6 linked regions of the Homo sapiens genome follow. The protein of the gene in region 3 purifies or fractionates together with the protein of the main gene of each other region. This does not show direct contact. Each region holds a gene or a part of one and is shown on either strand. Other genes may lie near its edges. The genes, in order: HSP90B1, COL14A1, OGN, ATF1, DNAJC13 and SORL1.

Evidence for each region.
Region 1: the proteins of OGN (region 3) and HSP90B1 purify together in Homo sapiens (affinity purification with mass spectrometry; one large-scale study listed by BioGRID and IntAct). This does not show direct contact.
Region 2: the proteins of OGN (region 3) and COL14A1 purify together in Homo sapiens (affinity purification with mass spectrometry, with the first as the bait; one large-scale study listed by BioGRID). This does not show direct contact.
Region 4: the proteins of OGN (region 3) and ATF1 purify together in Homo sapiens (co-immunoprecipitation; one large-scale study listed by IntAct). This does not show direct contact.
Region 5: the proteins of OGN (region 3) and DNAJC13 purify together in Homo sapiens (affinity purification with mass spectrometry, with the first as the bait; one large-scale study listed by BioGRID). This does not show direct contact.
Region 6: the proteins of OGN (region 3) and SORL1 purify together in Homo sapiens (affinity purification with mass spectrometry; one large-scale study listed by BioGRID and IntAct). This does not show direct contact.

Annotation. Positions count from the first base shown.
Region 1 is NC_000012.12:103,936,910-103,940,409, reverse strand, and holds part of HSP90B1 (endoplasmin precursor), read right to left. Parts: intron 2,716-3,500; coding exon 2,604-2,715; intron 2,071-2,603; coding exon 1,951-2,070; intron 902-1,950; coding exon 785-901; intron 1-784.
Region 2 is NC_000008.11:120,130,696-120,136,219, forward strand, and holds part of COL14A1 (collagen alpha-1(XIV) chain isoform 1 precursor), read left to right. Parts: intron 1-5,524. UniProt on the Homo sapiens protein: Plays an adhesive role by integrating collagen bundles. It is probably associated with the surface of interstitial collagen fibrils via COL1.
Region 3 is NC_000009.12:92,401,696-92,405,892, forward strand, and holds the start of OGN (mimecan isoform 2 precursor), read right to left. Parts: upstream 2,801-4,197; intron 2,070-2,800; exon of another isoform or gene 1,788-2,069; 5' UTR 1,713-1,787; coding exon 1,539-1,712; intron 1-1,538. UniProt on the Homo sapiens protein: Induces bone formation in conjunction with TGF-beta-1 or TGF-beta-2.
Region 4 is NC_000012.12:50,814,892-50,819,696, reverse strand, and holds part of ATF1 (cyclic AMP-dependent transcription factor ATF-1), read right to left. Parts: exon of another isoform or gene 3,757-4,805; intron 63-3,756; coding exon 1-62.
Region 5 is NC_000003.12:132,499,935-132,505,458, forward strand, and holds part of DNAJC13 (dnaJ homolog subfamily C member 13), read left to right. Parts: intron 1-859; coding exon 860-979; intron 980-2,354; coding exon 2,355-2,534; intron 2,535-3,279; coding exon 3,280-3,447; intron 3,448-5,367; coding exon 5,368-5,481; intron 5,482-5,524.
Region 6 is NC_000011.10:121,605,697-121,611,220, forward strand, and holds part of SORL1 (sortilin-related receptor preproprotein), read left to right. Parts: intron 1-1,148; coding exon 1,149-1,261; intron 1,262-1,489; coding exon 1,490-1,594; intron 1,595-2,407; coding exon 2,408-2,480; intron 2,481-5,379; coding exon 5,380-5,462; intron 5,463-5,524. UniProt on the Homo sapiens protein: Sorting receptor that directs several proteins to their correct location within the cell. Along with AP-1 complex, involved Golgi apparatus - endosome sorting.

The sequences.
Region 1 (3,500 bases), on a different chromosome or scaffold from region 3:
AACTTTATCAATGCTAGTTTTGCATCCTTAAGAGTTACAAGAAGGGATCAATAAAAGAAGAAGAAAAAAAAAAACAGGCAAGGAAACATAAATTTAGTAATTATTCCCAGGCATAGGATCTCACAATAAGTGTTTGATGTCATAAGCAAGCTCTTTAAAGATTATATTAAAAGCCACTTAACAACATGATTTCATGTTTTACGGGTTTTGTGGTGGAAATCACACATCTACCTATGTAGGTGGTTCTTAATCTTTTTTTGTCACACAAAACCCTTGGCAAGCTGGTGAAGGCTACAGATGCCTTCTCAAAATAATTTTTTTAAAAAAATCACATATTACAAAATACACAGGAATAAAAAGGAAACCAATTGTGTTTAAACAGCCATAAAACTGTTTCAAACATTCTTGATTTTGTAGTTTCACTATTCACTAAGAGCTAGGACTAATTTTAATAACTGCTGCAATTTTGAAGTAGTGATGAGTATAATAATTCAACTTAAGTAAAAATGGTGTGTTCTGGAAACCAATTACTCTCAAAGACCATCTCTACTGAGGTGTCAATCTCAAAGGTTCATAAATGTGATTTTAATTGTGACTAGGTCAATAAACCAGAAGTAGACATATTATAGTTGGCCTAAAGGTCTTTTTTTGAATTTTCTCACTGGGAAAAAATGGGAATGGACCATCTCATATTCATGGTCACATACCATATACAATTAAACTAAGAGGGTGATATTTTGTCTATTCATTAATAACCAGAAACTAGGGAATTATAAATATTTACCTTTGAAAATGATTTGTAGAAAGCTTTGTATTCATCTTCTTCTACTTCTTTTGATGGTCTCTGCCATATTGGTTTGATATCATTCATAAGTTCCCAGTCCCAGACAGTTTTTTCAACCTGAAGTTATTATAGTATTTGATTAGTCTCTCTCAGCACTCACCAAGGTTATCCTAGCAGTAACCATGGCTTCAGTAGATTTCAAAAGACTATGTAAAGACCCAGAGGACTGGTGTGGTGGCTCACGCCTGTAATCCTAGCACTTTGGGAGGTTAGGGTAGGAGAACTGTTTGAGCCTAGGAGTTCAAGACCAGTCCAGGCAACATAGCAAGACCTCCAACTATACAAAAAATTTTTAAAACTTAGCCAGTCATGGTGGCGTGTGTCTGTGGTCCTAGCTACTTGGGAGGCTGAGGTGAAAGGACTGCTTAAGCCTAGGAGTTCAAGGATGAAGGGAGCTATGATCGTGCTACCACACTCCAGCCTGGGTGGCAGAGACTCTGTCTCCAAATTAAAGAAAAAAAAAAAAAGGGCACCAAAGGATACCTGTTATCTAGTAAGGTTTCTGCCAACTGTATCAAAAGCAAAGTATTTTTCTCAATATTTAATTCAAAAAGACAATTGTTAACTGATGAAAAGCCACTTAAGTTTTTCTTCATTGTTATTTTTTAACTAGCAAAAATGTTTCTTGAAAATATTTGTTTTGAGGTTAGAAGGAAATACATATTATATATTCCCATTTCATGACTTAAAGAAATCCAACATTTTACAAAAATATTTCTCAACCACCATGATCAATACTTCTTAGTCTGCTACCTAAGCAAGCCAGAGAACCATTTTTATGGTTAATCTCTGCATGATAAAAAGACAAAAGAGGACTCAGAAGGCTTTTTAAGATTTTAAAATTCCAAACATATAAGCCACCAGTCCTAGGCAATATATAAAAGTTAGAAAACTCTTCATAAAAATGACCTGGGTTTGATACTTAAAACTTTCTACAGGACAATGTATTCAACATACAAACAAAGGCCTTATTTTAAAAGCTGGCTCCATGGACTTAGCACCTGAACTGAAGCTGACTTCAAATCAGCCAGTGCATACTTAGGTTTTCCTGGTTTTGCCTATACATGTTAAACAATATCTTATGCAGGGAGATAAACCAGACTTACTTTTTTAGTCTTTGGTTTCTTTTCTTCTTCTTCTTCCTCTACTGCAGCTTCATCATCAGATTCTTCTTTCTCTTCTTTGGCTGCTTCTTCTTCCTCCATGGGCTCCTCAACAGTTTCAGTCTGTTGAAATAAGAGAATTATGGTTAAACTCATTTGTTTAACAATTCTGATTTTGTCTACAGAATATGATATAACATTACAGGTCAAAAAATAGGTTTTTGTAAGAAAACCCTGAGAGTATCCTTAACTAATAGACCACATTTTGCCTTCATTCTTTTTTTTTTTTTTTGAGACAGAGTCTTGCTTTGTCACCTAGGCTGGAGTGCAGTGGGGCGATCTTGGCTCACTGCAACCTCCGTCTCCCGGGTTCAAGCAATTCTCCTGCTTCAGCCTCCCGAGTAGCTGGGATTACAGGCGTGTGCTACCACACACCCAGCTAACATTTTTGTATTTTTAGTAGAGACAGGGTTTCGCCATGTTGGCCAGGCTGGTCTCGAACTCCTGACCTCAGGTGATCCACCTGTCTCGGCCTCCCAAAGTGCGGGGATTACAAGCATGAGCCACCGCGCCGGCCTGCCTTCATTCTTTTAGTGTTGAATATTTAAATACGTGCCAAGGTAATACATATAAGTTTTTAATCAATATAGATTTACCTTGCTGCTCCATACATAAATAGGAAAGTTTATGAACTGTGAATATTTTTTGACGAGATTTTTAATTGTATCCAATTCAAGGTAATCAGATGCTTCTTCTTTTAAGACAAGGCTGCAAGAAAAATTCGATGTTTAGAGACACCTAACATTTAGAAGATCTGATTATAAATTCATTTAAATACCATGGTAATAGCCAGCAGTTCAGTATAATCCAAGATGTCCTAATTATTCATGTTAACTCTCCATCACCAACAAGGGTTTGTGAGCTAAAATGTAACACATGTAGATACAGTAAAGAGAAGAATCTCCTCTACATTACCTCAAGTGGAGAATAACCTTAGTTTTAAGTAGAAAATTAAAATATTCCCAACCGTCTGAATAGATTGTTTTCATTTTTCAAGGTGAGAAAGCACTGAAATATTCTGGAGAGAAATGGAATCATGCACTCTCATAGCTCTTACTGTTATTCCAGAAACCTAATGATTATTGTAGATAACTATTCCTAATTAATGAAAACATTTTCCTTAAAAAAGCTAGAAAATTAATCTGGTTTATATTTATATCTGCACTATCCAAAATGGCAGCCACTGGGCACATGTGACTTATTTAAATAAAATGTACAGTTCAGTTCCAGTTATGCTGCCACATTCCAAGTACTCAACAGTCACATGTGGCTGGTGATCGCCAAAATGGAAAAGTGCAGATATAGAACATTTCTACTATTATATAAAATTCTACCGGGCAGTGCGGGGATTACAGGTGTGAGCCACTGTGCCCGGCCTAGAACCTACTCTTAAGCACAGTAGGTAGTCCATATCTTGATACTTGTGTTCCCAATTAAGTATGGGAAATGGTCTATCTATGGTTCCCTCCCTGTCTCAAAAGGCTCATTAGTTT
Region 2 (5,524 bases), on a different chromosome or scaffold from region 3:
AAGCCTGGATGAAATGGATTCTTTTTTTTCCAACTTTTATTTTAAGTTTGGGGATACAAGAACAGGTTTATGACATAGGTATATGTGTCATGCTGAAGTTTAGGGTATGAATGATCCCATCACCCAGGTAGTGAGCATAGTACCCAAAAGGTAGTTCTTCAACCCTCACCCCCTTTTTTTTCCTTCCCTCGCTATTAGTCCCCACTGTCTGTTTTCTCATCTTTATGTCCATGTGTACTGTTTAGCTCCTACTTATAAGTGAGAATATGTGGTACTTGGTTTTCTGTTCCTCTGTTAATTCACTTAGGATAATGGCCTCCAGCTGCATCCATGTTGCCGCAAAGGACATGATTTTGTTCTTTGTTATGGCTGTGTAGTATTCCATGGTGTATATGTACCACATTTTCTTTATCCAGTCCACCATTGATGAGCATCTAGGTTGATTTCACATCTTTGTTATTGTGAAGAGTGCTGTGATGAACATAGGAGTGCATGTGTCTTTTTGGTAGAATTATTTATATTCCTTTGCGTATATATCCATTAGTGGGATTACTGAGTTGAACGGTAGTTTTTTAAGTTCTTTGTGAAATCTCCAAACTGCTTTCCACAGTGGCTGAACCAATTTACATTCCTACCAACAGTGTATAAGCATTTCCTTTTCTCTGCAAATCTGTTTTTTTTTTTTTGACTTTTTAATGATAGCCATTCTGATTGGTGTGAGATAGTATCTCAATGTGATTTTGATTTGCATCTTTCTGATGATTAGCAATGTGGAGCATTTTTTCATGTTTGTTGGCTGCTTGTATGTCTTCTTTTGAGAAATATCCGCTCATGCCCTTTGCCTACATTTTTAATAGGGTTATTTGTTTTTTGCTTGTTGAATAATTTAAGTTCATTATAGATTCTGGATATCAGACCTTTGTTGGGTCCATACTTTGCAAATACTTTCTCCTATTCTGTAGATTGTCTATTTACTCTCTTGATAGTTTCTTTTGCTATTCAGAAGCTCTTTAGTTTAATTAGATCCCACTTGTCAATTTTTGTTTCTGTTGCAGTTGATTTGAGGACTTAGTCATAGATTCACTGCCAAAGCCTGTGTCTGGAATGGTATTTGCTAGGTTTTCTTCCTTTTTTCTTCCTTTCTTTTTTTTTTTTTTTTTTTTTTTTTTGAGACAGAGTCTTGCTCTGTCACCAAGGCTGGAGTGCAGTGGCGCTATCTCGGCTCACTGCAACCTCTGCCTCCTGGGTTCAGGCGATTCTCCTGCCCCAGCCTCTCTAGTAGTTGGGATTACAGGCATATGCCCCACCATGCCCAGATAATTTTTTATATTTTTAGTAGAGATGAGGTTTCACTGTGTTAGCCAGGATGGTCTTGATCTCCTGACCTCATGATCCACCCGCTTTGGCCTCCCAAAGTGCTGGGATTACAGGCATGAGCCACTGTGCCCAGCCGATATTTGCTAGGTTTTCTTCTAGGATTTTTTTATAATGTTAGATCTTACATTTAAGCCTTTAATCTATTTTGAGTTAATTTTCATATATGGTGAAAGGTAGGAGTCCCATTTCATTCTTCTGCATACAGCTAGCCAGCTATTCCAACACCATTTATTGAAGAGGTAGTCCTTTCCCCATTGCTTGTTTTTGTTGACATTGTTAAAGATCAGGTGGTTGTAGGTGTGTGACTTTATTTCTGTGTTTTCTAACCTGTTCCGTTTTCTGTGTGTTTGTTTTTGTACCAGTACCATGCTTTTTTGGTTACTGTAGCCTTGTAGTAGAGTTTGAAGTTGGATAATTTGATGCCTTCAATTTTGTTCTTTTTGCTTAGAATTGCTTTGGCTATTGAGGCTCTTTTTTGGTTTTGTTTAGAATTTTTTTTTTTTCTATTTCTGTGAAAAATGATGTAGGTAGTTTGATAGCAATAACATTGAACCTGGATATTGTTTTGGGTAACGTTCTTTTTTTTCTCTTTGAAACAGAGTCTTGTTCTGTCACCCAGGCTGTGTTTTGGGCAGTATTCTTATTTTAATGATATGAAATGAGTTATTTTTAAACAAAGTACAAATTACTAAAACTGATTTTTTATTATACAGGAATTATGAATAAAACATTAGACACAAACATGTTGAAAAAGTTGTTAAAAAGTAACCTCTCCAAGAGTACTGAACTCTCCCCATGGTTTTGCAATTGAATGCTAATGAAAATGTAAAAAAATAAAAATACCGTGCTATTATAACTGTTCCGGCCGGGCGCGGTGGCTCACGCCTGTAATCCCAGCACTTTGGGAGGCCGAGACGGGCGGATCACGAGGTCAGGAGATCGAGACCATCCTGGCTAACACGGTGAAACCCCGTCTCTACTAAAAATACAAAAATTAGCCAGGCATGGTGGCGCGTGCCTGTAGTCCCAGCTACACAGGAGGCTGAGGCAGGAGAATGGCGTGAACCCGGGAGGCGGAGCTTGCAGTGAGTTGAGATCGCGCCACTGCACTCCAGCCTGGGCGACAGAGCGAAACTCCGTCTCAAACAAAAAAAAAATAAAAAAAAAAAAAATAACTGTTCCAAAGTACAGTATAGAGAAAGAAGAAAAAATTCTGTTATTTTTTATAAAACTGGAAAAAATAATACTGATATCAAAACTTGACACAGCATAATAAAAAAGAAAAGCTACAGATTAATTTCACTAATATTGATGTACTTATTGATATGAATAGCATATTAGTAAATAGAACCCAAAAGAATAATTCACAATGATCAAGTTGGGCTCAAATTTTACAGGTAAGTTTAGTATTAGAAAATGGATTAATATAATTGTCATGTTAAAAAGTTAAGAGAAAAAAGTTAGAGGATATTCTTCATAACTACTACAATAATTTAACATTTTATTTCAGATTAATAGCTCAATAAAGTTTACACAGATGGAAATTTACTAAACATGATACATTTATATCAGTATATTTGTGTTTGTCTTCTCTAACAGTCTGTCTAGCCATGTGTCTTCAAAATCAAAGTCATGCCAAAGAAGCATTGCTATTAAAAATAAGAACAAGACAAAGTTTCCAGGATAAATATTCTGGAGATAGTAGCCAAAGTAATAAGAAAAGGGAAAGAAATGAAAAACATAAAATTTGGAAGGTAAGAAGAAAGATATCATCTACAGAAAAAATTAAGGAAATCAATTTTACAAACTTTAAGACTTTGAAAAAATGTTAAACTATTCAAGGTAGGTTACAAAATTAATATAAAAATAAAATTGCTTTACTATAATTAATAAACAACTTGTTTAAAAGTGATTAAGAAAAATCCATTAACAGGAAATAAAACATATATGTATATAATATGTAGAAATAAACTCAAAATGTCAAATTTATATAACTCTTTAAAGTGCTCATGAAGAAATGAAGATGACTGGCTTGAATAAACAAAGAATATATTCTTTTTTGATGTAAAGATGGACTATTGTATAAAAAAGGTCGATCTACCTAAATTGGTCTACTAATTTAACATGATCCCAATTTTGAGGAGTTTTTGGTACCTAGTCAAAAATAATCAGAAAGAAAACTTAAAAGAAAATATTAAAACATATTATAAAGTTTTGATATTTACAATTACTTAATAGTCACACATAAATAGAAAATCGATAGATTCGAAAATAAAATATAGCATTGTTAACCTGTGATCAAAAGGTAAATTATTCTATAAGTGGTATTGGACTAATTGGATAGACATGGAGAATAAAAGTTAAAACTTTTTCATTTACATCAAAATAAGTTTTAGATGATCAAAGATTTCAATTTAAAAATTGAAAATGTAAGAATACTAAAAGAAAATATAGGAAAATGCTATAATTCCAAAGGAGAAAGAGACTTATATGCATGTCATAAACCATAGGAGATAAAAAAGAAAAAAAATAAATATTGGGCAACGTGTTTTATCATATATGATGGAAAAAGAGCCACATATTAAATACAAAAATTTCTCATAAAAAGATGAACACTCCTAGCTGAGTGTGGTGGCTCACGCTTGTAATCCCAGCACTTTGGGAGGCCGAGGAAGTCAGATCACTTGAGGTCAGGAGTTCGAGACCAGCCTGGCCAACATGGCGAAACCCTGTCTCTACTAAAAATACAAAAAACAGTTGGGTATGGTGGTGCATGCCTGTAATCCCAGCTATTTGGGAGGCTGAGGCATGAGAATTGCTTGAACCTGGGAGGTGGAAATTGCAGCGAGCCAAGATTGCACCACTGCACTCCAGCCTGGGTGACAGAGTAAGTGAGATTCCATCACAAAAAACAAACAAACAAACAAAAAACAGATGAACAATCCTATAGAAAAATGACCAAGGATATGCTAGAGAGTTCACCGAACAAAAGACAGCTTAAGTAAATGAAAGATGTGCAGTCATACTTTTAGCCATGGTGATGTTATATGTTGAACTACAATTTTTTCATACATGAAAGAATTTGTAAATATCAGAGCCAGCAAGTTTATGGAAAAATAGACACATATACTTTTGGTGGTATATAAACTGGCATAATCTCTCTGGAGACCAATTTGGCAATATGCATTAATACTTTTTTTTTTCTTTTTGAGACAGTGTCTCCCTCTGTTGTCCAGGCTGGAGTGCAGTGGCACAATCTTGGCTCACTGAAACCTCCACCTTCCAGGTTCAACTAATTCTCCCACCTCAGCTTCCTGAATAGCTGGGATTACAGAAGCGCACCACCACAGCCTGTCTAATTTTTGTATTTTTAGTAGAGATGGGGTGTCACCATATTGGTCAGGCTGGTCTCGAACTCCCAACCTCAGGTGATCTGCCTGTCTTGGCCTCCCAAAGTGCTGGATTACAGGTGTGAGCCCTGTGCCCAACCCATTAATACTTTTTAAAAGGAATAAGCATACTTTATAACCAGCAGTTTAACTTTTAGCAAACTGTCTTAGAGAATATTTGTCCATGACTTTTTTGAGATTTTGATTAAAATTGCTTTGAATCTATAGATTATCTTAAAGACATTCTAACAGAGTACTTTTTTTTTTTTAACCCATGAACATGGTGCACTGCTCTATTTAGGCTTTCTTTCATTTCTGTCAGTAATACACTTTTATATTTTGGTATTCTGAAGAGTATAGAGGCCTTGCATGTCATATTAATTTCTAACTATTTTATGTTTTTGATGTCATTGTAAATAAATTTAAAATTTTTTTCTTTTTATTTATTTTCTGCTATTATATAAGAATACAATTGATTTTTTGCTGACTGATCTTGTCTGTCAGTCTTTCTAAATTATTAGTTCAAGTAGGGTTTTGTTTTTGGTAGATTCCTTAGAATTTTCTGGTAAACAACCCTGTTGATTGTGAATAGAGTCAGTTTACTTCTTCCTTCCCATTCTTTCTGCCTTTTATTTCTTTTTCTTGCCTGATTGCACTGGCTAGGACCTCTAGTACAGTGTTGAGTGGAACTAGTAATAGTTAACATCCCTATTTTATTCTTGATCTTAGGAGAAAAGCATTCAATATTTTACCATTCA
Region 3 (4,197 bases):
CCTGGCTCTTGGATCCCTTTTATTCCAGCTTACCTTACCTACCCTGCTTGGGCCACTGGGGTAGGCCATTAATTCTGGGGAAATTGGAGTAGATACAATTTAGATCCTGTCTTTCCTGTTCTTGGAGAGTACGTTTTCTGCCATTAGATTACAGTGTATTATGTGGTGTCCTATTCTTTCTGTCCTTTGTAAGCATGTTCCATTTTAGTCTCGGTCTTGACTCCTGACTCTGCCCTTCACCTTCATTCTCCCATCTGTGTGGTGGTTGAACTTCCTCCCTCTACTCTGTGTTTGCACATCAAGTCCTGTTGAATTCTACTCCACTCCACAAATATCTTAGACCCTGCATTTATATTAAGATAGAGAAACTTCTAAAGCCCTGTAAAGAGAAGAAGCAGAGAGAAAAATAATCTCTAAACTCTTTAGGGATCAGGGAATCTTAATAGATTCAAATCATCCAAGTGAGCCAATAGCCTATGTTATGATGGGACTTTTTTTTCTTTAACTTGAAGCTATAATTAGTAATACCTATCCTTTGTGTCTTAGTGATGGGCAAAAATAATGCTATCATATTAAAAGCATTAACTGAAAGAAAGAAACTGTGGTGTTAACATTTGCTCATTGTGTACCCCTGCAAAAAAGAAAAGAGAAAGTAGCAATTATAACTGGTCAATCTTATAAGTCTTTATCCTCCAATTTATAGTGGAGAAGAACTTCTGAAACAATCAGTATTGTTATATATTTGGCTGAATTTCTCATTTTCCAGTGTGTATGTGTATGTGTCATACATAGTGGGCAACAGATACTTAAGTGCTGTATTAACTTTTTCCTTACCCAGCATTCATTTCTGTGTGCCAAGAAAACCACAAGTAATTAGTTTGCCCATAAAGGTGGGGAATGAATGATGTGGTATAACGTCACCCTTGCAGTGTTAACTCAAAGACAGTTACAGTTACTTGGTACCAATTGATAGAGGGTCTAAACTGTTAAAATTGATTTAAAAAGAAAGTCCTATATTGACTAGGTTTTCAGTTTTTGGTACTGTATGTAGATGGCATATATAAATTATTGTGGAATGCTATTGATATCAAAATAACCAGTACTCTTCTATGTATTTTCTTCAAATTGTTTTCTATAATAATAACCTTAAGCTGATAATTCATCTTTATTTCTCCAAATACACATTTCCGCTAATTTATTTTTGAGGCAACACAACATTGCAAGTATAGGGCATTGTGTAACATTACTTAATATATAAATTGCAACTGGTGAGGGATCATCTTAAAGTCTAGTTTTCTTTAAGTTTTATTTTTTGGTTACTATAGATACTGTTTGGTTACCATAGATACCATTTATTAATTTGGAAAGCATACATACTCTAAAAATACAATCTTAGGGACAATTATTATGAATTCGTTTGAATCATTTAAAGTGATTTTCCCTTCCCCTTACCTTATCAGACACATTCAGGAAAAGCAAAAACATGCATTTAAATGGGCAGTATTTTAGAAGCTAAATTTAGAATAGAAATAAAGTACCTTAATATTTTTTCCATCCAGGTATTTATCCTCATAATCTTGGCTAAATATGGATTCTTCAAAATTATCTGTTCCATAATCATAGATAATGCGTGAGTCCTGCTGGGTTGGTGGTGCTGGCTTTATCAGAGGCACAAGCAGTAACAGGAGAAGTGTAGACTGCAGAGTCTTCATTTTAGCAAAAATCAAGGTGACTGGAAGTTAATAAACTAGTGGCCTGCTGACTGTGGGACAAAACTCTCTTTTTCCCTGGAAATAAAAATTCAGACCATCGAAGCAATATTTAAAAGCTTAGAGGATGTTTTGGCAGGGTGTGCGCAGTAAGGGCCAGAGAACAGTATTTAACCCTTAGTGATCTTTAATTAGATGCTAGCAGTTTTTATGTATCAGTGAACATTCTGAAAAATAGTTTTGGAAAATAGTTTTACTTCTCTATCAGAAATTCAAGAAAGATTGATAATTTTAAGTTTCTTAATAATTAAGTGCCTTCAGCAGACATACTAATATTTAATTGAAATATTCTTAGGATACCTGTAGTATAAATAGTTAAAATAAAGTCCCAAGATCCTGTCTCATGTGAGTTAAAAATATCATATTTCCACTTAGCTACTTTATAAGAACTCTTGATTTATATTGGTATGAACAGAAACAAGTTCCAAGAAAAGTTTTAAAACTTAAATTTAACATTATGAAAAGTAGTCATTAACACCTTTAGGTGGTACAGAATATAGGAAAAGCCATACGTTTTTAATTTTCTTAGTTTTGTAATTTTAATAGGTGATCATAATTTTTAGTTAATAGTATTGTATTTTTAATTTAAGCTAAGAAAACTGAAAGAATAGTATTGCAGGCTAGAGGAAATACCGAACTTTAATCAAAGAACTTTGAGGAATGTAATAGAAAGGATTCCTTTAGGCTCATCAATGGATTTTCTCTGGTGGGTACACATTTCAGACTTTTTCTTAAGTAACTTCAAACAGAATCACTCAAGAGTTGCTGATGCTGCATTATAGATGCCAGTTTGTCAAAAATCCAGAGGTTGAAAATGAAGAAGATAATGGATTTGTGACTTCTGCAGCACCCTATTCTTGCCTGCGTGGATGTTAAATTTATGCGATGATATACATAAGTACTTCTTAAAAATTAATTGAGGTAACTGAAACTTAAACCAGAGATGGCCTTTACATTTATTAAGACTATTAGATGAGTCAGTCGCACTTTAACAAACAATATTTAAAATAATATATGAAAAGTAAGCCTACCGTTGTAGCTGTTTTGAAGTTTTTTGTGGTTTTCCTCAATAGATGTTCATGTCTGTGCATTAGCCCCAAGTGGGAGGGTGAATGAGAAAAGCTATGTCTTGATTTCAAACTGCTGAGTAAAATTTCAGGGCCCAGCAGCTTTAAGAACAGTTTCCATGTGGTAGAGATCTTTGCCAGCATTCTTTCTCTAGGGTGAAATGCAGTGTGTTGTACTAGAGAACTGTGCTTAAGTTATTTGTTGTAACTGCTGCACTCAGTCTGCTTCAACTAATTTGACTATAAACTTGTGTGATTTTATTATTGTGTAATAAACATTCATGTTTTGGTGAATATTAGTTTATGAAAAATGATATAGTTTTAAAGTCATCCTTTTCATTTTGGTGATTTCCCAGGAGATCAAACAATCTGCTTTTTGAATGAAATAGGACACCAAATGACAACATAGTCCATGTTGTTAATTTTATGAGGATTAAAAATATTGCCCTAATACCATAATTAATATATAGCCAGTGTAATATATTTTTCCAGTGTAAAAATTAGTTTTAGCACAAATTATTTGATAGTTTTGTCATTTGGATTTTTTCTCCCCTTTATTTTAGTTACATATAAGAAAAACTGATGCATAAAAATTAGCTTTTTAAAAGTAAATTTGATTTATAGTTTTTGAGGTTGATAGTAAAAGATACTTTTGTTTGCTGAATGAAGGAAACTTTATAAAATTACTTTAATATTGAAATTGGCTTTTAAAAATTAAAGTGGCATTGTAGATACCATACAAGCAACTTTGAAGATTTTTTTAAAGAGTCACTTTTAAAAAATTCCTCCTTGGTGCTTTTACCAATCAAATTAACTTTTCTCCTTTAAGCTAAAAATTTAACAAATATGGATATATATTTTATTAAAATAGAAAATGAAAGAATAACAATTTGTTTTCTTTTCTAGACAAAATTGTTTTAGAACCTTTCAAATCAAAGCTTAAATAAACTAAGACTTGAGCACTGAAGTTTTTATTTGAATGTGAATTATCTTAAATTTAATTGTGATATTGTCTGGCTTGAGTTGATATAAATTGTTGGTTTTATGGCTTCAAGGATACAGTAAAACTTTTTTAAATACTTTGAAATATATAATAATGAAACAACAGACATTGATTTGTTTTGTATTGTGTGGCAAGTTAACAAGATATTGAGAAGTAAGCTGGATAGATACCATATGTCCAAATTTAGAGAATCTTAGAGATTCATAGTTTCATTAATGGTACACTTTGATGCTTTGTACTACAGAAAATTATTTTGTGAAGAACAACTTTCCTTGAAAAGTTATGACCAGTGAATACAATGTTATTAGCATTCACTCATTTAATAAAAGTTTATTGAGCGCCAATTCTGTGCCAGGAC
Region 4 (4,805 bases), on a different chromosome or scaffold from region 3:
CTCGGTTTTCCAGGCATTTCACATATTCTTTCTTCTTTCTGCGACATTCTCGAGCAGCTTCTCTAAATATGAGCATTAAAAAAACAATGTTAGAAAAAACTTCACATTCTTTAAATGGTAAATGTTCTTCAGTAATTTTCCGTGGTCACCTTTTTTTCTCTTTAAAGTATCATCTACACACAGAGAATACATAGATCTTAAGTGTAGAATTCAGTCAGTTTTGGCAATTGTGTATACCTGTATAACCCACACCTCTGTCAAGACAACAGAACATTCCCACTGTCCCAGAAAGTTCCCTCATGCCCCTTCCTGGTCAGCCCCCTTCCAAGCAACTATCGTTTTGATTTTTATCACCAGAGATTAGTTTTTTTCCTATTCTAGAACCTCATGTAAGAGTGTCATACACTATGTACTCTGGTGTCCCTTCACTCAGCCCATCTGAGGTTCATCCATGTTGCTGCATGGGGGTTTGTTCCTTCACACTGCTGGACATAGTTCACTGTATGAATATAACCACCATTTGTGTATCCAGTCTCTTGCGATGTTTCTAGGGTTAGCTGCATAGGCATGTTTTTGTGCCAGTCTTTTTGTAGAAAGGTTTCATTTCTCTTGAATAAATACCAAAGAGTGAAATTATGGGTCCTCTGGTTAACTTCTGACACATGACTTCTTTTATTTAAGTTCAAATTACAAACAATGCTTGAGCAAATACTCAGTTCTGTGCATGTCCTCTTAAAACATTTCTGTGAAGTCATATGTAAGTTTATATACATATAGAAATCGGAAGTATTGGCCAGGCATGGTGGCTCATGCCTGTAATCCCAGCACTTTAAGAGGCCAAGGCGGGCAGATCACCTGAGGTCAGGAGTTCGAGACCAGCCTGGCCAACATGGCAAAACCTCATCTCTACTAAAAATACAAAAATTAGCTGTGGTGGCACATGCCTGTAATCCCAGCTACTTGGGAGTCTGACCCAGGAGGATCACTTGAAGCTGGGAGGTGGAGGTTGCAGTGAGCCAAGATCGCGCCACTGCACTCCACCCTGGGCAACAGAGCAAGACTCTGTCTCAGAAAAAGAAAGAAAGAAAGAAACAGTACTATTTTAAGATTTTTATGCTATATATGTAGATACTATTTGCAACTTGCTTTTTAGTACACATCTTTAAAAGGACTGTACAAAATCTTTCCCCTCACAAAAAGACTTTATTTTTACCTTTAAGCTCTGTTTGTTTGTTTGTTTTAAGTGGTTTCCAGTAAACATTCTTTTTCTTTTTTCTTCTTTTGTTTTGAGACAGGGTCTCACTCTGTCAACCAGGCTGAGTGCAGTGGCACAATCACAGCTCATTGCAACCTTGACCTCCTGGACTCAAGATATCCCCACTTCAGCCTCTCAAGTAGCTGGGACTACAGGTGTACACCACCACACCAGCTAATTTTATTTTTGTAGAGATGAGGTCTCAGTATGTTGCCTAGGCTGGTCTCACTCCTGGTCACGGTGTCGGGATTATGGGCATGAGCCACCCACTCAGCCTCCATTCTTTACGTGTATTTCTACACATGTATTTCTTGAAGGATCACAAGCTATATTCACTTAAAGTCAAGAGATAGTGCCAATTTATATTCATTGAAGTACAGAGAAATAAGGGGGGAAAAAAGGAAGGAAAAAAATCCCAGAGTCAAACCAGAAAGAAAAAAGGGAAAAAATGCCAGAATGTCCTCCAGAGTATTTGTACCATTTACATTCCCAGGGGCAGTACATGAGAGTGCCTGTTATGAACATTTTAAAATGGTTGTCAGTCTAGCGGCTGACAAAAAGCGAACCTCACTGCTTTAACATTTCCCTCATTATGCACAAAGTTTGGAATAATTTCATGTTTACAAGGCCATCTTTCACAGACCGGTTTCCTTCTGTTAGGTCTCTTATTTACAGAAATAAATCTTTATATAACCTATACATCTCGTAATTCTTTCTCTTTATATAAAAGTTGCAAATATTTTTCCCAGTTAACAGACTTATTTTTAAGTTTCTTTATGGTATCTTTTGTCACATACAAGTAGAAATGTTGGGGCAAGTAGATACCATAAAACTCCGTACTTCCCTCAGTAATGTATGTGAGGTACCCTTTTCCTTATATGCCCAATGACAGACAGTATTACCACTTTATAATTTTTGCTACGTGACATCTCATTTCTTATTTTTATAGTTGTAGTATATACGTATATGACCCTAAAACTGCTATCATTTATTTTCTAAAATTATAAAATATCATACTTTGTGTATTCTGTTGCAACTTGTTTTTTCATTCAATTTTTCTAAGATTTATTCATGTTGAAATGATTATTCATTCAGTCATTACAAATAAACATTCCATTCTATAAATACAGTCACAATTTATGTACCTATTCTTTTTTCCCCCCATTTTTATGTTTAGGCTCAATATGTACCTATTCTGTTATCAATGAATCTTGAGGTTGTTTCCTGATTTTTTGCTGCTATGAAAATTCTTATACATACTTCCTCCAAGTTCCTCTCAGTCACACAGACTAAAACAGCTGGGTCACAGAGTATACCCACGTCAACTGTACAAGATAAGGCCTAATTTCCAAAATGGCTGCATCAATTTACACTCCTATAGTAGTATCTATGAATTCCTGACCATTGTTCCAAATCCTTGCCAACTCTTGGTTAGACTTTAAAATTTTTGCCAATTGGGTGGGTATAAAGGGTATCTAAATGTGTAGCATTAATGTGTATTTCTTTGATTACTAATAAGGCTGAGTAGTCTTTTATATGATTATTAACTACTTGTGTGTTTTTTTTTGTTTGTTTTATTTTTGAGACAAGAGTCTTGCTCTGTTGCCCAGGCTGAAGTACAATGGCGTGATCATGGCTCACTGCAACCTCTGCCTCCAGGTTCAAGTGATTCTCCTGCCTCTACCACATCTAGCTAATGTTTTAAATTTTTTTTAGAGATGGGGTCTCCCTATATTGCCCAGGCTGGTCTCAAACTCCTGGGCTCAAGTGATCCTCCTGCCTTGGCCTCCGAAAATGCTGGGATTACACGTGTGAGCCACCACGCCTGGCCTGTATGGTTTTTTCCATTAAAATGTTTCTGTGCATATTTATGGAGCACATGAGAAAATCTGTTACATGTATATAATGTGTAGCGATCAAGTCAGGGGATTCAGGGTGTCCATCACCTGAGTATTAATAGGTTTTTGTTAAGGGTGGTCATCCTACTCTGCTATGAAACACTGAATTTATTCCTTTTATCTTACTGTGTATGGGTTTGTACCCTTTAACTCTCTTCATCCTCCTCCTTGCCCCTCACCGTTCCCAGTCTCTGTTACCTATTTTTCCATTCTCTCTTTTTTCTTGAGATAGGGTCTTGCTCTGTTGCCCAGGCTGAAGTGCAGTGGTGCGATCATGCTGCCTCAACCCCCTGGGCTCAAGCAATCCTCCCACCTCAGCCTCCCGAGTAGCTGGGATTTTAGGCACACGCCACCATGCCTGGCTAATTTTTTATCTTTTGTAGCAATGGGTATGTTGCCCAGGCTTGCATTGAACTCCTAGGCTCAAGTGATCCTCCCGCCTCGGCCTCCCAAAGTGCTGGGATTACAGGCATAAGCCACCACGCCCAGCCCTATTTTTCCACTCTCTACTTCCATGTGTTCAAATATTTTAGCTCCCACATATAAGTGAGAATGTGATATTTTTTCTTTTTGTGCCTGGCTTATTTCACTTAAGATACTGACCTTCAATTCCATCCATGTTGCTGCAAATGACATGATTTAATTCTTTCTTATCCATTTATCCACTGATGGACACATAGTTGATTCTATTAGCTATTGTGCGTGAATAGTGCTGCAAGTAAACTTATGAGTACAGGTATCCCTCTGATATATTGATTTCTTTTCCTTTGGGTAGATTTCTATTTTTCGTTTTTTGAGAAGTCTCCATACTGGTTTTCATAGTGGTTGTACTAGCTAATTTTAAATTTTTGGGGGCTGGGTGCAGTGGTTCATGCCTGTAATCCCAGCACTTTGGGAGGCTGAGGCAGGTGGATGGATCACTTGAGCCCAGGTCTGAGACCAGCCTAAGCAACATGGCAAAACCCCACCTCTACAAGAAAAAAAAAAAAAATTAGCTGGGTGTGGTGGTATACATCTGTAGTCTCAGCTACTTGGGAGGCCGAGCTGGGAGGATCACTTGAGCCCTGGAGGCAGAGGTTGCAGTAAGCCAAGATTGTGCCACTGCACTCCAGTGTGGGTGACACAGTGAGACCTTGTCTTAAAAAAAAAAATCACAAAAACCAAATATAACTTTTCTACTTTTTGAACTTTTTTGTTAAAAATTAAGACACCAACACCAACATTAGCCTAGGCTAACTAGCCTAGGGTCAGGATCATCAATATCATTGTCTTCCACCTCCATACCTTATCCCACTGGAAGGTCTTTAGGGGCAATAACACACAGGGAGCTGTTATCTCCTATGATAACAATGCCTTCTTCTGGAATACCTCCTGTAGGGGCTGCCTTGAGGCTGTTTTACAGTTAAAAAAATTTTTTTTTTTGAGACAGAGTCTCACTCTGTTGCCCAGGCTGGAGTGCAGTGGCGCAATCTCAGCTTACTGCAAGCTTCGGCTCCCAGATTCATGCCATTCTCCTGCCTCAGCCTCCCGGGTAGCTGGGACTACAGGCGCCCGCCACCACGCCCAGCTAATTTTTTTGTATTTTCAGTAGAGATGGAGTTTCACCACGTTAGCCAGGATGGTCTCGATCTCCTGACCTCGTGATCTGCCCG
Region 5 (5,524 bases), on a different chromosome or scaffold from region 3:
TCTGATTCAGTGAGTCTGGGGTGGTGGCCTGAGAGTATGTTTTTATAACAAGTTTCCAAGTGTCATTGATGCTGCTGGTCTGTGTATCACACTGTAAGAAACTGTACTAAAGCACTTGTGATCTGTTGGCTTACGTTTTCTTTCTTAGAGAATAGTTTATTGAACCCATATGTTTCCATTACCCAGCTTAATGCCATTCTTGTTTCACATATCTTCCATCCCTCACTCTCCTATCTCTAGTATTTTAATTGGCTTAACATTTAAGGTTGTAAGATAGGAAATTCATCAGGAGTTCATTAAGAGCTTTGTAGAGCGTGTCTTTCTATTTGACCTTTTGCTTATGCCAGCAAAATTCAGAATATAAAACGAGTACTGGCTGTTGAGTTCCATCCTCTATTTTGAAGTCCGTTGTGTAAACAGAATTGTGATATTCTGCTATGTTAATAAACTATACAAAATTACCTTAATCCAGAGGCCAGCAAACTTCTAAAATAAAGGTCCAGGGAGTAAATATATGAGTCTTTCAGGCTTCATACAGTCTCTGTTACATTTTCTTTTGTGACTTTTTTACAGCCCTTTAAAAATCTAAAAACCATTCTTAGCTCTTTGGCAGTACAAAGACCATGGTCAGTTTGGCCCATGGGTTGTAGTAGCTGTGGTTTGCCAACTACCCCAGCATTTATAGGAAATCTTAATGAGAAAGACTAGTGATCTAGTAAAGACATTCTGTTTAATTTTGGAACATTGTATATACCATTAAGCATTATTCACAAATTTCTGCTGGTTTGATTTCTATGTGTTAAATAAGGAATGCCTATGTGACTCTACTGGTTTTTTTGCTCTGTTGTGTTGTCTGCAGGTGTGTGGATACATAAGTAAATGCTACAGTGTGGCTGCTCAGTTTGAGGAATGCCGAGAGAAGATCACGGAAATGCCTAGCATCATCAAGGATCTCTGTCGGGTACTATATTTTGGCAAGGTAGGGTTAATCTTTAATGCTTTCTAGATACAGACAGCAAAGTGTCTTTTTGTCAACTAGCCAGTTCCTAATGTATAAGCACATTGTTTTCCCAAAGTTATTTGTAAGTAAAATTATTTGGATTTCTAAAAGCATTTTTCACAGAAGCCTTGCTGTAAATGGAGGCTTTGCTTCTAGGCTGGCCTACAAAGAAAAAGACTAAAGTGATACATCTAAAGGGAAGTGGGTTCCATCTGAACATTAGAATGAGTGGCAGGGAGAAAAGAGAAGCCTGTAATAAATAAGTCTTTTAAAAGCAAAAGGCCAGCCCGGTGTGGTGGCTCACGTCTGTAATCCTAGCACTTTGGCAAGCCGAGGTTGGCAGATCACTTGAGGTCAGGAGTTCAAGACCAGCCTGGCCAACACTGCAGAACCCTGTCTACAAAAAAATACAAAAATTAGCTGGGTATGATGGCATGCGCCTGTAATCCTAGGTATTCGGGAGGCTGAGTATTTGGCTGAAGAACAAGCAACTCCAGAAAATTCAACCATAAGGAAAAGTTTAGCTGGCATGCTGACACCCTATGTTTCTGTGGCTAGTGTGACTGAGATATATGCTTCAGAGGTAGCCTGTGCCACTACACTCCAGACTGGGCAAGAGAGTGAGACTCTGTCTCAAAAAAAAAAAAGAAAAAAAAACAGGGCCATGTAAAACCTGAAAACTAGAGAGTTCGGCACTGCTTGGTGGGAAAGGCTTTAGAGATCTGAGAACTTACTATTTCCTCCCAATCCAGACCTGCTGAGGAAGGTTGACTGTGGGTAGATGAGATAGATGACTGGGAGGGAGAGAGAAATGTCTTAAATAACTGGGCAGAGTGAGAATTGTCTTGAATAAAACAGGATCGAGATGCTGATCTAGTACTAAAGTATCAAGAAGTGAGGGAATTGATGAAAATATCTCCTCTACTATATCTACTTAATGTCCTTAGAAGTATTTGATTACAGAATAAAAAACTGACATAAATAAATCTTTTAACAACTGCACAAAATATGTCGTTACATTTAAGATCACTAGCGTGTAAGTTGCTATTGATGCCATGTCACTATTTTTAAAAATTAAAAATACAAGAAGTGAAACAGGAAACTATTCCCAAGTCTTCTGACATTAGCCTTAAAGGTAGTAATTCTGGTATCTCGTCATGAGGTCACTTTTAATTTTAGGCTTTAAAGGATGTAGGATTCAGATTTAAATTGGAATTGAAAATGTAAGAAGAGGTAAACATTTTACAAAATAACGTGGTTGGCTTGACATACATGCACAACCAGTTCCTCTTGGGAGCTTTTTTTTTTTTTTTTAACTCTGTAACAACTAATGCTCTCATTTTTATTCTCTCAGAGTATTCCCCGCGTAGCTGCTCTTGGGGTAGAATGTGTCAGTTCTTTTGCTGTGGATTTCTGGCTACAGACACACCTATTTCAGGCTGGAATTTTGTGGTATCTCCTTGGTTTTCTGTTTAATTATGACTACACACTAGAAGAGAGTGGCATTCAGAAAAGTGAAGAAACAAACCAGCAGGTAACTTTAACATTGCTTTAATATTGAATTTGAACCCAAACCTTAGGTTGGTGTTAAACTAATCCAAACCAAAGCTGCTATCCAGAGTCCCCAGAGATAAATTGTTTTTCAGGAAAATTAGGTTTTTTGCTTTTTAAACCTAATCACTTACTTACAAAACTTTTAGTTGTAATTGCTTATGCTTAAAGGATTCCAGGCAAGGGAATTTGCAATAGCATATACTGGACATAATTTAATAATTTCTTAATTACTCAGAGTCAACTTTATGATGGCAAAATTATGGTTGTGTAACACAGGACAATATAATGTTACCATCAGGCAGTTGAGGCTAGCTCCCCTAAACACTTGAGTACTTGTCTGATTTTTATAGATATTTTTCTGTCTCTTCTATGTGCTCTCATTTATTGCTCATATTGTAAATGTGTGCTTCTAGCAGGCAGGGCTGCCTACCTATCCCCTACTCCCCACATTACCACCAAATGTGCTTCTTCCAGTTGTCTGTGAGATATACTGCATTGGGTATAAGTTAGTACATAGATTCTCCTGGTCCTTCTTATAAATAAAAAACAAGCCCCAACACATAAACTTTCTGATGTTTACCTCAGTGGTAGGTACTCTTGTACCCTTTTGTTGGTTGACTTTTTACTCCTTAAATATGTTCCATATAGTGTGATTCTGTAAAATTATAGTATTACCTATGTAAGATAACAGATCTACTTTAACAACTTAATTTTTTTTATAACAGGAGGTAGCAAACAGCCTTGCCAAACTGAGTGTCCATGCTCTGAGTCGCCTTGGAGGGTATTTGGCTGAAGAACAAGCAACTCCAGAAAATCCAACCATAAGGAAAAGCTTAGCTGGCATGCTGACACCCTATGTTGCTAGAAAACTTGCTGTGGCTAGTGTGACTGAGGTATGTGCTTCACAGGTAGCCTGGGTTTTAATCAATAGTGCAAGATCCTTTAAGCAGTAAAGTAGTACAATAATATTGATCTAGGGAACCTAAAAATTAAGAACGTTCACATGTTTGTTCTCTCAAGCAAGAAATTCACTTTATAATGGATTGATGCTAATGATGTCAGTTCTACAAGTCCAGTTTTTGCAAGGGCAAATTAACTTTGTTTCTCAGCTGTGGAGCCTATCATAATTCTTACCAACCTTGAGTCACAAAGGGACAGGACGAGAGAGTGAAGTTGGAATGGTGTTTCACAATGGCAGACTACTGGGAGACAGGAGACCCAGAGTCTATTTCAAGCTATTTATTGTAAGCCATAGCTTATTCAGACACAGGGTTAAAATCCTGAAAGTAAATACATACATGCACATATACATGTATATGTATCTATGTACATACATAGATGCATTACAAAAATCAGTATGACATGATAGATCTCCCAACCTCTTTAACTTCTTTTGCAAGGATTATTGAGAAATAATCTGAGAATGTAGCACTAAAGAATTTGATAAACTATAGAAATCAGTTAAACAGGTTACTATTATCCTTTAATTATAAAAAAAAAAAGAGTACTAAAAGACATTAAAATAAATGAAGACACTAGATCCTATTTTTGGTATAACAAAATAAATGGATTGATAGATTTGTACCCATATGTTAACTGTAATTATTCCTGAATGGCATAATTATAGGCAGTTTTTCTTTTGTTTTCGCTAAGGATGAACTGTGACTTTTGTAAGTGAAAAAATCCTCAGGTTTCCAAAGTATTTTTACAACTTTTAAACAGGTTATTTGTTTTTAATCCAATGTGATTGAGTCCAATTTTCAGTGCTTGCCATGCTTTTCAGTTCCCATGTGTGAAAGGCAGGAGCTCTAGATGCTACTGGTTTTTTTTTTTTTTTTTAATTTTGTTTTTGTTTTTACTATTTTTCCTAAAACACTAGACGACCAGGGACCACTCCTGATGTTAGTTATTTTCCTGGACTTTTTGCTCACCAATGTGATACATTTTGCTGACTGAAAGCATTCTCTTCAGAAATGCCAACAAGTTTGGGATTAACCTTTATAGCCACCCCCACTAAAAATTTTTTATAGCATTTCAAAATTAAATGTTGGCATGAGCTCCAACTGGATTCAATAAAATGCTTAACTAGAAGTTAGCCTTTTGAAAACAAGGCTTGCATGTCTTTGTATAAGATGGAGGTCATAGTCCTCTGTTTTCCTATTAGCAGTAGACCTCTGTAAAAATAAAAGATTTTTATTCAGACATTTAAGGAATTGTGAAATATCTGTGTTTACATTTAAAATTGAGGAGAGCTCAACAATAGGAAAGCACACCAGATGCCTAAGCAGTCATAATCTATGCCTGCAGAAGGACTACACAGCCTTCAATATCAGGGTGTGGTCAGGAAAATCTGACTTTCTCCCCATAAATTTTATTTTCCTTCATACAGGTATGCTTCTTAAAGACTTAGGTTTTGTTTTCAAATACATGTACATAAAGGTATTATGTTGTGATTCTTTTCAAGCTTATAGTCACAGTGTGTTTATTAAGTACTTTCAAAATATTGAATTTCACCATGGCACAGCAGATTTTGAGAATGTTGAAGTCAGACTCAATTTCAAATCCTAGTTTCACCAGTTACCAGTTGTAAGATCTGGGACAAATAATTTAATGATTTGCAGTCTTAGTTTTTCTCAGCTGTAAAATGGATTATATCAATAAACTTGTTAGAATTATTGAGATACTTATTATTGAGGTCCATTATACTATAGGCAACTATTATAGTGTTTGGCCTATAATAGACATTTTTAATAAGTGATAATGTCAATAAGTTTTTTCACTAAATGTTATAAAACGGTAATATTGTCTCCTAGATTTTGAAGATGCTTAACAGCAACACAGAAAGTCCATATTTGATATGGAACAATTCTACAAGAGCAGAATTACTTGAATTTCTTGAATCCCAACAAGAAAACATGATTAAAAAAGTATGTTATTGTTTTATAAATTTCTTGGGTAATTTATTCTGAT
Region 6 (5,524 bases), on a different chromosome or scaffold from region 3:
CTAAGCTTTATAGTCTTGCCAGAGTTGTCAAACATCTGTTCTTCTTACTGCATCAGAGACTGTTCTTGTACCTTAAGTTAATTTAAGATTCTCTCCACCATTGCCCTCTTGCATTTTTTGTCTAGTTTCTACCTCTACGTTCCTCCTCTAGATATTTCCTAGTACTTGGTACTTAGGAGGAGGTCATCGTCATTAAAATATGAGGCATATCAGCAATTTTGTGGCTAAGTTTTTTTCTTTTTGGAGACAAGGTCTCACTCTGACACCCACACTGGAGTGCAGTGGAGGCGCAATCACTGCTCACCACCTCAGTCTTCCCAGGCTCAGGTGGTCCTCCCGCCTCAGCCTCTCGCATAGCTGAGACTATAGGTGTGTGCCACCATGCTCAGCTAGCTTTTTGTATTTTTGTACAGAAAGGGTTTTGCCGTGTTACCTAGGCTGGTCTTGAGCTACTGAGCTCAAGCAATCCACCTACTTCAGCCTCCCAAAATGTTGGGATTACAGGTGTGAGCCACTGCACCTGGCTTTGTGGCTAAGTTTTTAAGAAATTTACCAAATTTATGTGTCTAAGAGAGTTCCTCGCCTCCTCCCTACTTCAAAGTAGTTGACATGAGCAACTGTCTGCTTGAATGTCATCTTTTTTCATTGCCTAAAGTATCCTGAATATGCTAGCGCTAAACTCATTAAGGAGCCTGCTTTGAAGATGATCAAATTCATTTGGATATAGAAATTCTGTGATGTTACAAAATTAGTCTTATTTTTTGGTAGTCATGCCCACAGTACAGTTTTTGTTGTACAAGAAGCAGAGGCAGCAGGTGCTGTCATTGACAATTAAGATCTCAGCATGGAAGTCTCAGGGTCAGTGGTGACTCAGCCTGCCCAAGTGATTCTATCCTGCAGCCCTTATGAGCCACAAATTTACCACACACTCAACTGAGCCATGATGTGATGTGTGGACGGCACACCTTGCTTTTTGGAAGAAGAGGAAAAGTGTCTTTTCAATGTGACGACCAAGCTAGCAGCCTTTCTAGTGGATAGTCTCAATGCCGGCTGTGGAGTCGTTCTTGTCCTTGTTCTAAGCCCAGGAAAATTCCTCTGGTTGGCTGCTATGCAGATGGGTTTTAACCTTGAGTTGACTCTTTTTCTAGTGCCAGATGCCCCTCGAAATCTCCAGCTGTCACTCCCCAGGGAAGCAGAAGGTGTGATTGTAGGCCACTGGGCTCCTCCCATCCACACCCATGGCCTCATCCGTGAGTACATTGTAAGTACCTTCCATGAGTTGGCTGTATGTGTGTTGGGGGTGCTAGGAGATTTCTGGGTATTCTGTATGACGAGGGGGTTGATTTGGTTTAGCTTTGTAGGTGATGACCCATCCGTCAGAACATTTTGCTCCTCACCATCTTTTCTCTCCTCCAGCCTCCTTGCAAGATATTAGGATGCCCTGGACCTTTGGTTCCCTTTACTCACATTTTTTTTCTTCTCCCTTTAGGTAGAATACAGCAGGAGTGGTTCCAAGATGTGGGCCTCCCAGAGGGCTGCTAGTAACTTTACAGAAATCAAGAACTTATTGGTCAACACTCTATACACCGTCAGAGTGAGTGTCGTCATCCATTCCAGCCATCCATGCAGTCTTAGAACTGAGCGAAATTGCTGCTGTTTTGTGAGAACTCTCTACTCACCTTTGTGAGATGCATATTAGTAATCTGCAAAATACCCAACTTCTTGCCCTGGGACGGGGGAGCTCAGAGTTTCTTTCAGTCTCTTAAATGGACACCACAAAGAGCTTGACATCAGAGTTTCTGTAGATAACCGGGCGTTTATGGGAATGCCGCTTTCCCTGCTTTTAACTCCGGTATTCTGCTAGCTTTCCAGCTCCTATACTTTTGCAGTCAGCTCTTTCCTGCTTATCTTTAGCTGCAGGATGATGCAGAGCTATGATAAGTAGTCTTTCTAAACTGATTTTATGAGGTTCTTATGAAATATATTTTTAGTATTTTTAGCAGAAAGAGATAGATTTTGTGAACAACATGTTTGCTGAGACCATTAAGTGTGCACATTCATGACTCTCACACTGATAATTTTGTCAGTACCCTTTTTGTATATGTGTGTATTTATGAACACACCCCCCCATACACCTGCCCTTTAGAAGAACCTTGATATTTGTGGATCAATAGAAATTTTCTGATCTCAGGACTGTCATAATGCCCTTTACCCAAGCTCCTTCCCTTGGCTTTTTTGCCCTCTTATTTCAGATGCTGGGGCCTCTGAATATTCTGGATCACTCTGTATAAAATTTTTCCAGCCTCACTGCCAAAATCTCACCCCTTTAGCTCATTCAGTATTCTTACTGTATGGTGTATGGTGTATTGCCTTTATTTCATATTAATTCACCCTCTGATTTGAAAAGGTGGCTGCGGTGACTAGTCGTGGAATAGGAAACTGGAGCGATTCTAAATCCATTACCACCATAAAAGGAAAAGGTAAATGATCCCAGCATTTGCAGATTTAGAGAAAATATTATACAAACCCTTTCAAATGACTTTCAGTATGACCGGAAAATGGAGAAACGTAGTTTAGAAAAACATCACACAACTTTCTTCTCCCCAACACACGCACATTTTTGGGTGTCTCTGTAGTGCTTTAGATAGAGTCTTTTTGGGGTGACTGAGTGTCTTTTTCCTCCTAGTATTGAGCATTTCTTCTAATGCAGACATACAAAGGGATTTCCAAAGGCCATCATGCGCAGCCCTTTGTGAGTAGTCAAAATATCTAAAATAGAAGGAGTCCTTCCTTCTCACCAAAGCTGAAGATGATTTTGTGCATGTTCACTTACGGGGTTTTAAAGAAAGCACCATGCTGACTCTTGTTATTCTCCCAGTGGCACTGGCAAACTGTGTGTAGGTGGTTTTTTATCTTGTACTAGAGCTGATATTAGTAATAACTGATGGCTTGCCAAGGGCAGGACACTCTAGAGTGTTCACTGCTTTGCGTACATCAGCTCATCTAATTGAACAGTCAGAACAACTACAAGAAAGGATAAGGAACTGGAATGAGGTTATGTCACTTGTCCCAGGCCACACAATCAGTAAGTGACAGAGCTGGCCCTGGAACCTGATCTGCCTGACTCCAAAGCCTGTGCTCTTAACCACTGTGCTCCACGCTTCTCTCTGGGCTGAGACACATGCGGCCTACTGGACCGCCCTGCTTGCCGGGGGTGGCGGGCTCAGCATCTTGCACGAGTGCCTCATGAGGGCAGAGATCTGGTCTGTTTTTCTCTACTCTATCACGGGCATCTAGTAGAGACTAAGGAAATAATTGATGATTGAGTGAATCGAAGCAGTTAAATGAAGGGTTCTGGCATACTTTGGGAGATGGACTACAACTCATTTTCCAGAGTGGTTTTCCTGACCTTAGCCTTGACACTGGGGACTTGCATTTCTGGACTTCCAGGTATTAAAACCAGATGGACACTGTGGCATGCAATAGGACTGGAAGATTTTACTTTAACCTAAGCCTGTGAGGAATAGGCTCTGGGTCATGGAGAGTCACTATCTAGTCCCCTCTAAAATCTGGAGCCTTTGAGATCAGGGCCCAAGGCGGCCAAACGTAGTGCCACCAGATGGTCTTTGGAGCTGAATGCTTGCAGGTATTAGAGAAAGCCTGCTGAATTCACACTCTCCTAGAATTTTTATTGTTGTATCTCTTCTCTCTACAAAGTCTGTTTCAAAACACTGACCACACATACCAAGAAGGGATGTTGGAAGAGCAACCAAATACATGTACCTTGAATTCCGAAGGCACAAGTCACAACTGCATTTGAAAATCTCAGTGGATGGTTGGTTCTCTTTAACTTCTTTTCTGTGATTTTGATGAATCTCAGCTGCTTGCATATATTTGGGCTAGGATTTGTACAGAAGGCAGCTGTGTGCCACATCCAAAAAGTGTTTGTTGTAAAATATCTGTGACATAGTATCATAATAACGTTTTAAGATAAAGGACAAAGACAGCAGAGGCATCAGCCAGACGCGCCAGGTTAATTGGTGAATGTAGTGGATTAGTAATGACAATGAGAAAAGCCACCATTCCCTGAGCACTTCTTATACACTAAGCACCATGCTATTGTTGCTCGTGAATGGATCCCTTATTAATCCTTATGAATCCTATGAGATAAGTATCCTTATCCTCATTGTGTAGCTGAGGAAATGGGTTTGGAGTGGATTGTGACTTGTCCCTGGTTGCCATGATTATAATTCAAGTCAGCTTTACCATATGCAGCACTCGCACTGTTTTGCTCTGTGTTGGCCGCCTGAAGCTTCCAATATCCTTTCTTCTTCCGGTTATTGCATTTTCCTGAAGCCTAGTTTTATTACATGATTGATCATCTGGACAGACCTCTTCAGACTTTGACACATCTCTTTTGCCACCAAATCTTATCTGCTCCTTTGAGTCTCTCTTGCCCAGTCTATAGAAGGGGCATATGTGTGGAGAGTCTAATATGCAAGTTGTTGTTTAAATAATATTTTCTGATAATATTGATCCATTGAGCTCTTTTAGATCATGCTGGGCCAAGCACTGTCAGCCATCTGGTGGGAAGACCTTCCAGATGACAAGCATGGCGCTCATTGGTTGAACTGAGAGGGGTCTTTTCCTTGGCCACTTCTCCTTGCCCCCTCGACTCTTAGCTTGAGCTCCAGTCTTTTTGAGAGCACCAGTGGTTTCTAGTTGTTTAGTTGGCCATATGTGACGCTATATTGGAAAGGAAGAGAAAGAGAGTATCAGTTGAGTGCTAGGCATCACACATACATTATTTTAGTTAACCTTCCCAGCTCTGTGAAATGCAGATAACATCTCTAGGCTCCAGGAAGATCAGTAACTTGCCTAGGTTACACAGATGCCAGAACAGGAATTCGAACTCAAGTTTGCCAGCTTCCAGAGGCCACATTCTTTCCATTTTGCCACACGCACGTTTACCATTTACGATTTACTCCATTGTCAGCCTTCCGAAAGGACTTGAGATTGGTGGGACTTTGTTAGTGCCAATCAAGATGCCACTCGCAGTGAATGATCCCTGTTCCTTTAAGAACCAGGCTGAAGCTGGGCTGTTTTGGGACCTTTACAAAATGGAACTTTTCTGCCTGACCTAATTGCCAGGATAGCCGACTGAGCCAAGATAGTTTTGTGTTCACCAAGCAACTGTGGACCAACCTTAGCTTCAGGAAAACAGTGGTAAAAAAAGATCGATGAGGAACACTGCCAAAGAAATACCCTTTCTTCCCCGACTGAAAGATGGCTTTGTCCGTTGAGTTGAAAACTATTAAGTCCTGCCTTCCTCACTTTTCATCACGTGGCTTCTGTTTTTGAATTCCTTTTTGTTTTCAGTGATCCCACCACCAGATATCCACATTGACAGCTATGGTGAAAATTATCTAAGCTTCACCCTGACCATGGAGAGTGATATCAAGGTAATGTGGGAATTTCAAGCCAGCAGCTGGATGGGGCTTTATTTTGTATGGGAACTGAAAGG